2 separate regions of the Homo sapiens genome follow, and region 1 is linked to region 2. The links come from fine-mapping of genetic effects on gene expression. A gene starts in region 2. The other region holds a variant in brackets. All regions are shown on one strand. Distances are between the middles of the regions. Region 1 has its middle 23 kb from the start of MFSD6. Region 2 holds the start of MFSD6 (major facilitator superfamily domain containing 6).

What was found. PIP is the estimated chance that this variant, and not a neighbour inherited with it, causes the effect.
Region 1: its variant is fine-mapped to the expression of MFSD6 in whole blood (INTERVAL, PIP 0.99).

What each region holds. Positions count from the first base shown.
Region 1 is chr2:190,383,163-190,388,539 of GRCh38, forward strand. No RefSeq gene overlaps it. Among named protein-coding and RNA genes, the nearest start is that of MFSD6, 23 kb to the right of the region's middle. The variant T/C (reference allele first, on the strand shown) is at 2,390.
Region 2 is chr2:190,406,117-190,411,493 of GRCh38, forward strand. MFSD6 (major facilitator superfamily domain containing 6) reads left to right here and starts at 2,239. Exons shown (of 8, transcript NM_017694.4): 1 at 2,239-2,387. RefSeq lists an enhancer at 1,510-1,559 and a silencer at 1,820-2,859.

The DNA of each region.
Region 1 (5,377 bases), 23 kb before region 2:
ATGTTTTTTTGTTTTTGTTTTTGAGACAGTCTGGCTTTGTCGTCCAGGCTGGAATGCAGTGGCAGGATCCCTGCTCACTGCAATCTCTGCCTCCTGGGTTCAAGTGGTTCTCCTCTGCCTCAGCCTCCCAAGTAGCTAGGACTATAGCCAAGAGCTACCACGCCCGGCTAATTTTTTGTATTTTTAGTAGAGATTGGGTTTCACCAAGTTGACCAGGCTGGTCTGGAACTCCTGAGTTCAGGCAGTCCACCCACGTAGGCTTCCCAAAGTGCAAGGATTATAGGTGTGAGACCGCGCCCGGCATTTTTTTTTTCTTCTTTTTTTTTTTGAGACAGAGTCTCACTCTGTCACCCAGGCTGGAGTGCAGTGGTGTGATCTGGGCTCACTGCAACCTCCACCTCCCAGGTTCAAGTGATTCTCTGCCTCAGCCTCCCGAGTAGCTGGGACTACAGGCACGTGCCACCATGCCCGGCTAATTTTTTGTGTATTTTTAGTAGAGAAGAGGTTTCACCATGTTGGCCAGGATGGTCTCGATCTCTTGACCTTGTGATCTGCCTGCCTCGGCCTCCCAAAATGATGGGACTACACAGGTGTAAGCCACCACGCCCGACCCTTTTTTTTTTTTTTGAGACAAAGTCTTGGTCTGTTGCCCCCGCTAGAGTGCAGTGGTGTGATCTCTGTTGGCTCACTGCAACTGCCACCTCCCAGGTTCAAGTGATTCTCTGCCTCAGCCTCCCGAGTAGCTGGGACTACAGGCACGTGCCACCATGCCCGGCTAATTTTTTGTGTATTTTTAGTAGAGAAGAGGTTTCACCATGTTGGCCAGGATGGTCTCGATCTCTTGACCTTGTGATCTGCCTGCCTCGGCCTCCCAAAATGATGGGACTACACAGGTGTAAGCCACCACGCCCGACCCTTTTTTTTTTTTTTTTGAGACAAAGTCTTGGTCTGTTGCCCACGCTAGAGTGCAGTGGTGTGATCTCTGTTGGCTCACTGCAACTGCCACCTCCCAGGTTCAAGAGACTCTCCTGCTTCAGCCTCCCGTGTAGCTGGAATTACAGGTGCCCACCACCACATCCGGTTAATTTTTGTATTTTTAGTAGAGACGGGGTTTCACCATGTTGGCAAGGCTGGTCTCGAACTCCTGATCTCAAGTGACCCACCCACTTTGGCCTCCCAAAGTGCTGGGATTACAGGCATGAGCCACGGCGCCCAGCTTGCATCATTTTAAATAAACCATCTTCCTTAACCAATTCGTTCCCTTTATTGTGTTTTAAATTGTCATTAAATAATCCTTAAAAAACTGGAAAAATATGGAGAAGTAAAAAGGAGGAGAAAAATCCAACATTCAAGCATAGCTACTGAGAACATTTTAGCCAATGTTCCTAGAATTGTTTTTCTTCTATGAGTAAAAGAATAAAGATTCAAACCACAGAATGGCAGAAGATATTTGTAATACATATCTGATGAAGGACTTGTGTCTAGAAGAATAATTAAATCAATTCAAAAGTTTACAAGAAATAAAGAGCCAATGAACATGCTTGATAATGTACATACTTGAACAATTCTCTGTTTCATTAAGATAAATGTTTTTATTTGTGTTTTTGTTTTTTGAGATGGAGTCTTGCTCTGTCGCCCAGGCTGGAGTGCAGTGGCACAATCTTGGCTCACTGCAACCTCCGACTCCAGGGTTCAGGCGATTCTCCTGCCTCAGCCTCCCAAGTAGCTGCAATTACAGGTGACTGCCACCATGCCCAGCTAATTTTTGTATTTTTAGTAGAGACGAGGTTTCACTGTGTTGGCCAGTCTGGTCTGAAACTCTTGACCTCAGGTGATATGCCTGCCTTGGCCTTCCAAAGTGCTGGGATTACAGGCATGAGCCACTGTGCCTGGCCAAGATAAATGTTTAGAGGTAAAACTGCTAGATCAAATATGTACATTTTAAATGTGGGTACCTATTGACAAAGGGCCCTCTAGAAAAGGTACACCAATTAACCCTTCATCAGTCGGGTGTGGTGACTCATGCTTGTAATCTCAGCACTTTGGGAGGCTGAGGCAAGAGGATCACTTGAACCCAGGAGTTACCAGCCTGGACAACATAGCAGCAAAACAAAACAACCTCTCATCAACAGAGGATGAGAATGCTCGTTACTTATATCCTTGCCAACACTAGATGATATCAGTCTTTCAAAATCTAATACGTAAAAAAGGTAAATCAGGTTGTTTTAATACTCTATTGCTTTCTTTAGAACTAATCATATGCTGATGAGATTAGTTGGCCAATTGTATGTAATTAGTGAAGGCCACTGTGTTACTTGACTTGTATGATTTTATGATGCAAAGTAGAAAAAAGTTTAAATAGTTGTATTTTACAGTCAGTGAGAAACAT[T/C]ATAGAGAAGTGTGAACTCAATAGAAGTTTGAACTTCAAGAAGCTTTCGAAGGATTTGAGCTGTCCAGCCACACAATGAGCCACATTCTAACTGCTGTTAATCCTACAGATATTAGACACATTTAAGTAAAATCTAGATGACCTTTTTTTCTGGGATTCCAGCCGTGATATCTAGTATTCATGATGAATCAGATACCCTATATTAAATTTTTTAAGTATAAAATTATTTTTGAGACAGTGTCTTGCTCTGTCACCCAGGCTGGAGAACAGTGATGTAATCATTGTAGCCTCAAGCAATCCTCCCACCTCAGCATCCCAAGTACCTGGGACTACAGGTGCATGCCACCACACCTCACTAATTTTTAAATATTTTTTGTAGAGATGAGGTTTCGCCGTGTTGGCCAGGCGGGTCTTGAACTCCTTGGCTCAAGCAATCCGCCTGCTTCGGCCTCCCAAAGTGCTGGGATTACAGGCATGAGCTTCCACTCCCAGCTGTAAAATTCAAATATGTATACTTTTATTTTATTTTATTTTATTTTATTTTATTTTATTTTATTTTATTTTATTTTATTTTATTTTATTTTATTTTATTTTATTTTTTGAGACAGTGTCTCGCTCTGTTGCCCAGGCTGGAGTGCAGTGGCGTGACCTCGGCTCACTGCAACCTCTGCCTCCTGGGTTCAAGCGATTCTCATGCCTCAGCCTCCTGAGTAGCTGGGATTACAGGTACACATTAACATGCCTGGCTAATTTTTATATTTTGTAGTAGAGATAGTGTTTCGCCATGTTGGCCAGGCTGGTGTTGAACCCCTTACTTCAGGTGATCCACCTACCTCAGCCACCCAAAGTGCTGGGATTACAGGCGTGAGTCACTATGCCAGGCCTAATATGTATACTTAAAAATATATACATTCTTTATGCATTTTCACCTAAAGATACCATCTATTTCTGCAGCTTCAACTATGACTATATATTTGATCCCCAAATTTATAAAAGGAAGAAAGGAAGGAAGGCATAAATTGGAATAGGAAAAAGCCCTAATCTCTCTTTTCAACTCCAAACCCACATTTCCAACTGCCCACTGGCCATTTCCACCTCCATGTCTTGCCAGTCCATGGAACACAACAGGTCCCAAAGTAATCATCTTCCCTCTCCCCCTCACCCTGGCTCCCAGTTAGACTCCAGTATTATGGTTTTCTGATCATAGATCTCCCCTTTATATTCTTCCCTGAGGAAAAATTCTGAAGTTCTGTTCTCATGTAGGGGCTTTCTCCCTGCTCTCTCCCCATTTCCTGACTTTCAACATTTTTTCTTCATTTCAACTTCCACATCACCACTTTGGCAAGACCTCTTCTTGCCTCTGACCCATGCTAGTACACTGCTACAGTCTGAATGTATGCGTCCCTCCAAAATTCATATGTTGGAACTTAAACCCCAAAGTGACAATATTAAGAGGCAGGGTTTTTAAGAGGTTTTAAGGAGTTATGATAGCTCTGCCCTCATGAGTGGGATTAGTGCCCTCAGAAAAGGAGTCAAGGAGCCAGGTGCGGTGGCTCATGCCTGTAATCCCAGCACTTTCGGAGGCCAAAGCGGGTGGATCATTTGAGGTCAGGAGTTCGAGACTAGCTTGGCCAACCTGGTGAGACCCTGTCTCTATTAAAATACAAAAATTAGCCAGGTGTGGTGGCACGCACCTGTAATCCCAGCTATTCGGGAGGCTGAGGTAGGAGAATCGCTTGAACCCGGGAGGCAGAGGTTGCAGTGAGCCACGATCTCACCACTGCACTCCAGCCTAGGTGACACAGTGAGATTCCATCTCAAAAAAAAAAAGTCAAGGGCTCAAGGAAACCAGGTAGGCCCTTTTTGCCTTTTTGCCCTTCTATCTTCCTCCATGTGAGGATGCAGCAACAAAGCACCATCTTGGAAACAGAGCACCACCCTCACCAGACACCAAATCTACTGGTGCCTTGATCTTGAAATTCTCAGCTTCCAAAACTGTGAGAAATAAATTTTCTTTTTTGCAAATTACCTGGTGTTAGGTATTTTGTTATAGCAGCAGAAACATACTAAGACACACACACCCACTGCCAGCAGGGCTTTGAGCATCGGCAGTCGTTTAAGGAAGCCTACATTAGGGGTTCTGCTGCCGTGGATGATATATGGCTGTAGGTGGGGCACAACTCTCTGTGTTACAGTCTCTTCATTAGTAAGATAGTCACAAGAGGCCCTTCCAATGCCAACATTGTAGAACTGATTCTTAGGCCCTTGTTTCCCTAATAACTCTGGTGACTTTCTGCTAGCTCCTAGGCTTTAGCTTGGCATTCAAGGCCTTCTTCCTGCTCGACCCCATCCCCCACAAAAAAGGATTTGAAAGAATAACAGGTAGGCAGTGAAACTGCAGGCAGAGCACCAAGCTCCTGCTCTACATTCCCCTTTTCTCTGAGATCTGAAGCCCTTCGATGTTGGCTGCTCAAAGTCCCTAAACTCCAATTTCTGTCTCACCAGGCCAGTGAGGCAGCTGCAAGCAGGAGTTCTCTTTCTCTGTCTCTAAGTCCCTCAATATGAATTTGCAAATGTCTTGGGCTAGGTAAAGATTTTTTAAGCAAAATACTGAGCACTAATCATAATGAAGAAACAGGAAATAACCTTGATGATCATCGATAGAAGAATGGTTGAAATAAAATGTCTAAATATAATGCTATATTATACAGCCAATAAGAAAGAGGAGTTAGATCTAGATGCATTGGGATGAAAAGATATACATGGTATACTGTGTTGCTAAGTGAAAAAAGCAATTTATAGAAGAGTGATCCAGTTTGTAAATTTAAAAAATATTTTTAAAAATCTAAGTATATACAACAAACTACTCACAGTAATTATGCCAAAGGGAGGGCCTACAAAAGTATCTTCATTTTCTCTATTATGGTTGTTGTTTGTTTGCAATAAGCAAGAATTACTTTTATAACTAGGGAAAACAGTGATATAAAA
Region 2 (5,377 bases):
AGAATCGTAAGATAATAAATGTGTGTTTTAATCCACAAAGTTTACGATAACTTGTTACAGCAGCAATAGGTAACTAATACACTGGGCATGGGTATAAGGGTGAAAGGAGCATTGAGAAGAAGGGCCTTGTACAACTGGGTGGATGGCTGTTTGGGACCCCAGAGTCTGGGAACCCAGAAGCAAGAGTGAATGAGGGGCCGGGTGCAGTGGCTCACACCTGTAATCCCAGTACTTTGGGAGGCTGAAGTGGGGGGATCATTTGAGGTCAGGAGTTTGAGACCAGCTTGGCCAACACGGTGAGACCCCATCTCTACTAAAAATACAAAAATTAGCCAGACATGGTGGCACATGCCTGTAATCCCAGCTATTCAGGAGGCTGAGGTAGGAGAATCACTTGAACCCGGGAGGCAGAGGTTGCAGTGAGCTGAGATCACGCCACTGCAATCCGGCCTGGGCGACAGAGTGAGACTCCATCTTAAAAAAAAAAAACGAGTAGGGGAAGAACAGAAGGTAAAGAAACATTGACGTGGCACTTAGTGAGGTTGGGGTGCCTGTGACACATCCCACTGGACAACTGGCCATAAGGATCTGGCCCTCAGGAGAAAAGCTGACCCCGAGAGAGGGCTTTTGGAGCACCCTCAAATATTCTGTGATTGAAGCCAAGGAGTGAGAGAATTCGCAGAAACAAACAGAATCAGAAGAAAGGAAAGCCTAGAACAAAACCCAAGGAAAACTAAAACTCAAGTGGAGCAAAGGGGAGTGGCCAGAGAGGAAGAGGAAAACCCAAGACTTGTGGGTCACAGAAGGCAGAGGAGGGGAGAGTTTCAAGGAGGAAAATCCAACACTTACGGAGCACCAAAAGAAGAGAAGGGAAGAGTTTCAAGGAGGGGACCAGTGTCTCGTGTTCCTGACAGGAGAAAGAAATGCCTGGAGAAAGAAATGATTGAATATCTACGTCAATATTGAAAGTGGATTTAGCATGAGGCTACTATAGTTTAAGCTTCAGAGACCCTTCATAAGCTCAGGAAGGGGCCCTAGAAACTTCGTATTTGTAATTGTTTTATTCTTCCTAAAGAGGGACTCAAAATTCAGAAACTTCAGGGCCTATCAAATTCTTACCAGTATGATTTCACGGTTAAGAGCTTAAAGCCTGGAGACAAAAGAAGCCTGCTTTCCCTTTCGCTGTTTAGTAACTTTGGATGGGTCACATTAACTTTCAGCCTCGGCTTTCCTCAGTTGTAAAATGGGAATAACGTTTCCTACACCTATAGGGTTATAAGGCTCAAAGAGTACCTACACAGTGCCCCGTACATAATCGATGTTTATAAGCGTTAGCTACCATTGTCACTCTTGTCGTTGTTGCCGTTAGCTACCATTGTCACTCTTGTCGTTGTTGCCAGAACAAGACAATAAACTCCTTAAGAACAGGATGTGGCATCCCCCAAAGCCCATCACAGGCACACAGACATACTTGCCAAGTGAATACTCCACTCTCCCCCAACTCTCTGCGTGTTTAACTAGAAATACAACTTTAATTATATTCTTAGTGCGACACACACGGTTGGCTTTTCAGCAAGATGCCAGTAGCAGCTTCCTGAAAAAGGGTGCCTTCGTCTCAGTGTTCCCCCTTCTTGGTGAGCCCCGAAACTCACAGATCGTTTGTCTCCCGCACCCCGCCGGCTCCTCCCTCCCGGGTCAACCTGGGACAGACGCGGAGATAACGCACTGACAGCATTAGCATTGTGTGTGCCACTTAAAAGGCGCTCAAGGAATAAGGGATGTTAGTACATTTTCCCCCACATTTCCTGGCCCGCACTCATTGCCTGGGGGCTCAGCGGAAGTCGCTTGGGGGTGCGGGGGGGTGGAGGGTGCGGTAGGGATGGAGCCTCGCCCAGTGCTTTCGCCTCCTCAGCGTGCTCCCCGGGCCCGGCTGGGTTCAGGTGTCCCTCCGGGCCGCCGGGGCGGGCTGGAGGCCGGGAGCGGGCAGTCGACGCATCCGCCGCCGCCGCAGGAGGCGGAGCGCTGCACCTGGCGGCCGGTCCTCAGCGCCCGGCCCTGAAACGGGTCCAGCCGGTAGTGACCGGCGGCGGCGACTGTGAGGCCGGGGCCGGGGAGGAGGAGGAGCCGCAGCGGGAGAGAAGGTCGCGCCGGCGGGAGCGCTGGGCCCTCCGCCTCCGTCCTCCGTGGCCCCACCCGGTCCGCATCCCTCGCCTCGCCTCGCCGCGCCCCGCCCAGCCCGTCGCAGCCCCGGAGGAGCGCGCGAGCAGCCCGGGATGGTGCGCGCTGCCCCGACAGCCGCCGCCCCGGCGCCCCGAGCCGCCGCCCCGTGCTCCGGGGACAGGGCTCCCCGCGCCCCGCGCAGCTGAGCGCTGCCGCCGCCGCAGCAGGTGAGTCGGGCCCGGCTTGCGGAGAAGGGGCTCGCAGACCCGCCCTGGCCTCCCCCGCCCCGCACGGGCCCAGCCGGAGGGCGGGTAGGCACCTCAGCCGCGCACACCTGCTGCCGGGAAAGGGGCTTCGGGGCCGGGGCTCGGAGCCCAGCGTGCGCCGCTGTCTCCGCTCGGGCCTCGCTCGCCCGCCGCTCCCTCCCTCCCTCCCTCCCCCGGCTTCCGTGTCGGGTGTCATCTTTGTGGGGTGCTGGGGGAGGCTGCCGCCTGCGCCCCCAGCGCGCCCCGTGCTGGCAGCACTTCCGCAAACGTAACTGGAGTCGGGAAAACAAAGGCGCTGCCCAGGGAGCCCTCGCCGGGCGCCCACAGCTGCTGCCGCGGGTGGGGACGGAGGGTGAGCGCCGATGCCCGGGTCCTCCTCCGCCCGGGCCGACCCGCGCCCTCGCCATAAACATCCCTGGGAAAAAGGAGGAGGTGAGAACCTCCACACAGCCCCAGTGACAAGGACGCGGCCACTTGTGTGGCAGGAGGAGGAAATTGACAACGTCTGCCCTCCCAGGTTAATAAATACGGAAAAAAAAATACCTCTGCTCTGCCAGCCACCATCCTAGCAGACATCCCCCACCTCGTGCTTTACTTCCACTTGGTCTAACATGTCTCTGGAGCCCTTTTGAGATACTACTGGGGGTTGCTAGTCTTTCTGGGTCATATTTATTGCCCATAGAGCAATTTTCCTGCAAATTTAGGTAAGATGGTGGAAAAATACAAACGCAACTTTCCCCCTCGTTAATCCCATCCCCACATGGACAGACAGGTGGGTTAATTACCTTTATGCATTCGCAACCACGGACGTTTCTTTTCATCCCAAAAAGATTGAATAAGCACCTCACAGAACTACTGGAACATATAATACCTTGCTTATTAGTGTGCAAAAGACTTAAAGAGTTGGGGTTCTAATCCCAACTGGTATTTAAATAGATGTGTGTGCTTGGGCATGTCACATCTTCCTGAGCCCCAGTTTTCTCACATGGAAAAGAGGATGGTTGGATATTATAGTGGCCAAAATTTCCCCTAATCCTTCTAGAAGTCCATGATTTTCTAGAAATCTAACCTCTTAAGTATAGATGAATGTGAAGGGTGGGTGGACATACAGTTGACTAAAATATGTAATAAAAGGAGATGTGTACTTGGTAGGTCCTTTCCCCAAGATGTGGGCACTAGCCAGCTAAAAGTGTATGCATCTGTTTTAGCCTTGTTAAGTAAAAGGATAGGATCCTCCTCTTTGGGAAGCTTGGCTTTTGACACGTCAAGCTGCTAGCAGAGGTGCAGGATATGGTCAGCTGTTTAGTGATAGTCAGATGGCTTGTATTTATCACGAGGTGTAAGTAAAATTTAGGATTGCTTAGGGGAAGGATGGGACATTGTTAATGAGCCCAGTGCAGGATGCTCTGGGGAAACAGGAGGAGAGAACATCACTTCAATAATGCATTAAAGCTACTAAGTAGTTGTGTGTCCTTCATGTTTACAGCAGTTTATTTCTAAGGCACTTTCCATCTCTATACAAATAAATATAAAAGCGTGAAGGCAAATAAAACACAAAGACAAAAAGCAGAGTTCACAGGTATTTGGTGGTGTGAGTATTGGATCACCAATTCCATCATATATAGTGTCTGGACTATTAACAGTATTAAGGCATTTTTTTGGGTACTTATTATGTTCAAGACACCATTGTAAACATTTAGTATCTCAATCTCTGTAAGATAAATCTTTCCCCTAGTTCTGTGCATGACAAAAAGGAAGCTCAGAAGGGTTAAGCAACTTACACAAACCACATAATCAGTAAGAGGTAGAGTTAAATTTGACCTCATGTTTCTGGCTCCAAAGCCCAGGAAATTTCCACATGGTGTCCCTCCCTAATCAGAACCTATTAAGTCTCTCCACCTACGCAGATGTCTTCCTTAGCTTCGTGCCTTTGAAAATTAACTTGATTTCAATGTACATGTATTACTTATGTTAACATTTAGCCATGTAGGATAATTTATATATTTATTACGTATGTATATTAATGTGTGTATGTTTACCCTTTTGTCCTCACCAGTTGTAGATTGAAGGCAGTATGAAGCTGACAGGTTTCTTTGTTTTACTTCCTTTGACAGCAAATCTTAATTTGGCAATCTCATTATAGGGAAAGGAAGAAATGCAAAAAATGTGTGTCTGCTAGCTATTTTGCACATTGGCTGAAAAATCAAGATGCTGTATATTAAATGAAAAAAATGGCTGGGCAAGGTGGCTCATGCCTGTAATCCCAGCACTTTGGGAGGCCGAGGCAGGTGGATCACGAAGTCAGGAGTTCAAGACCAGCCTGGCCAAGATGGTGAAATCCCACCTGTAATAAAAATACAAAAATTAGCTGAGCGTGGTGGCGGGCGCCTGGAATCCCAGCTACTCAGGGGGCTGAGGTAGAGAATTGCTTGAATCCGGGAGGTGGAGGTTGCAGTGAGCCGAGATCGCGCCACTGCACTCCAGCCTGGGCAACAGAGCGAGACTCTATCTCAAAAAAAAGAAAAAAAAAAACTAGCTTCAGAAGAAATTTATATACATTTGTTTAAACCTGCATACAGGCACACATACGCCTTTTTGTCCCCAAACTGTTGACAGTAGTTTTTTTTTTTTTTTTTCAGACAGAGTCTCGCTCTGTCACCAGGCTGGAGTGCAGTGGCTCGATCTCGGCCTACTGCAACCTCTGCCTCCTGGGTTCAAACTATTCTCCTGCCTCAGCCTCCCGAGTAGCTGGGATTACAGGCACATGCCACCAGGCTCAGCTAATTTTTATTTTTTTAGTAGAGACGGGGTTTCATCATGTTGGCCAGGATGGTCTCCATCTCCTGACCTCATGATTCCCCTGCCTAGGCCTCCCAAAGTGCTGGGATTACAGGCATGAGCCACTGCGCCCAGCCGACAGTGGCTATCTTCAGGAAGTGAGACAAGATGGA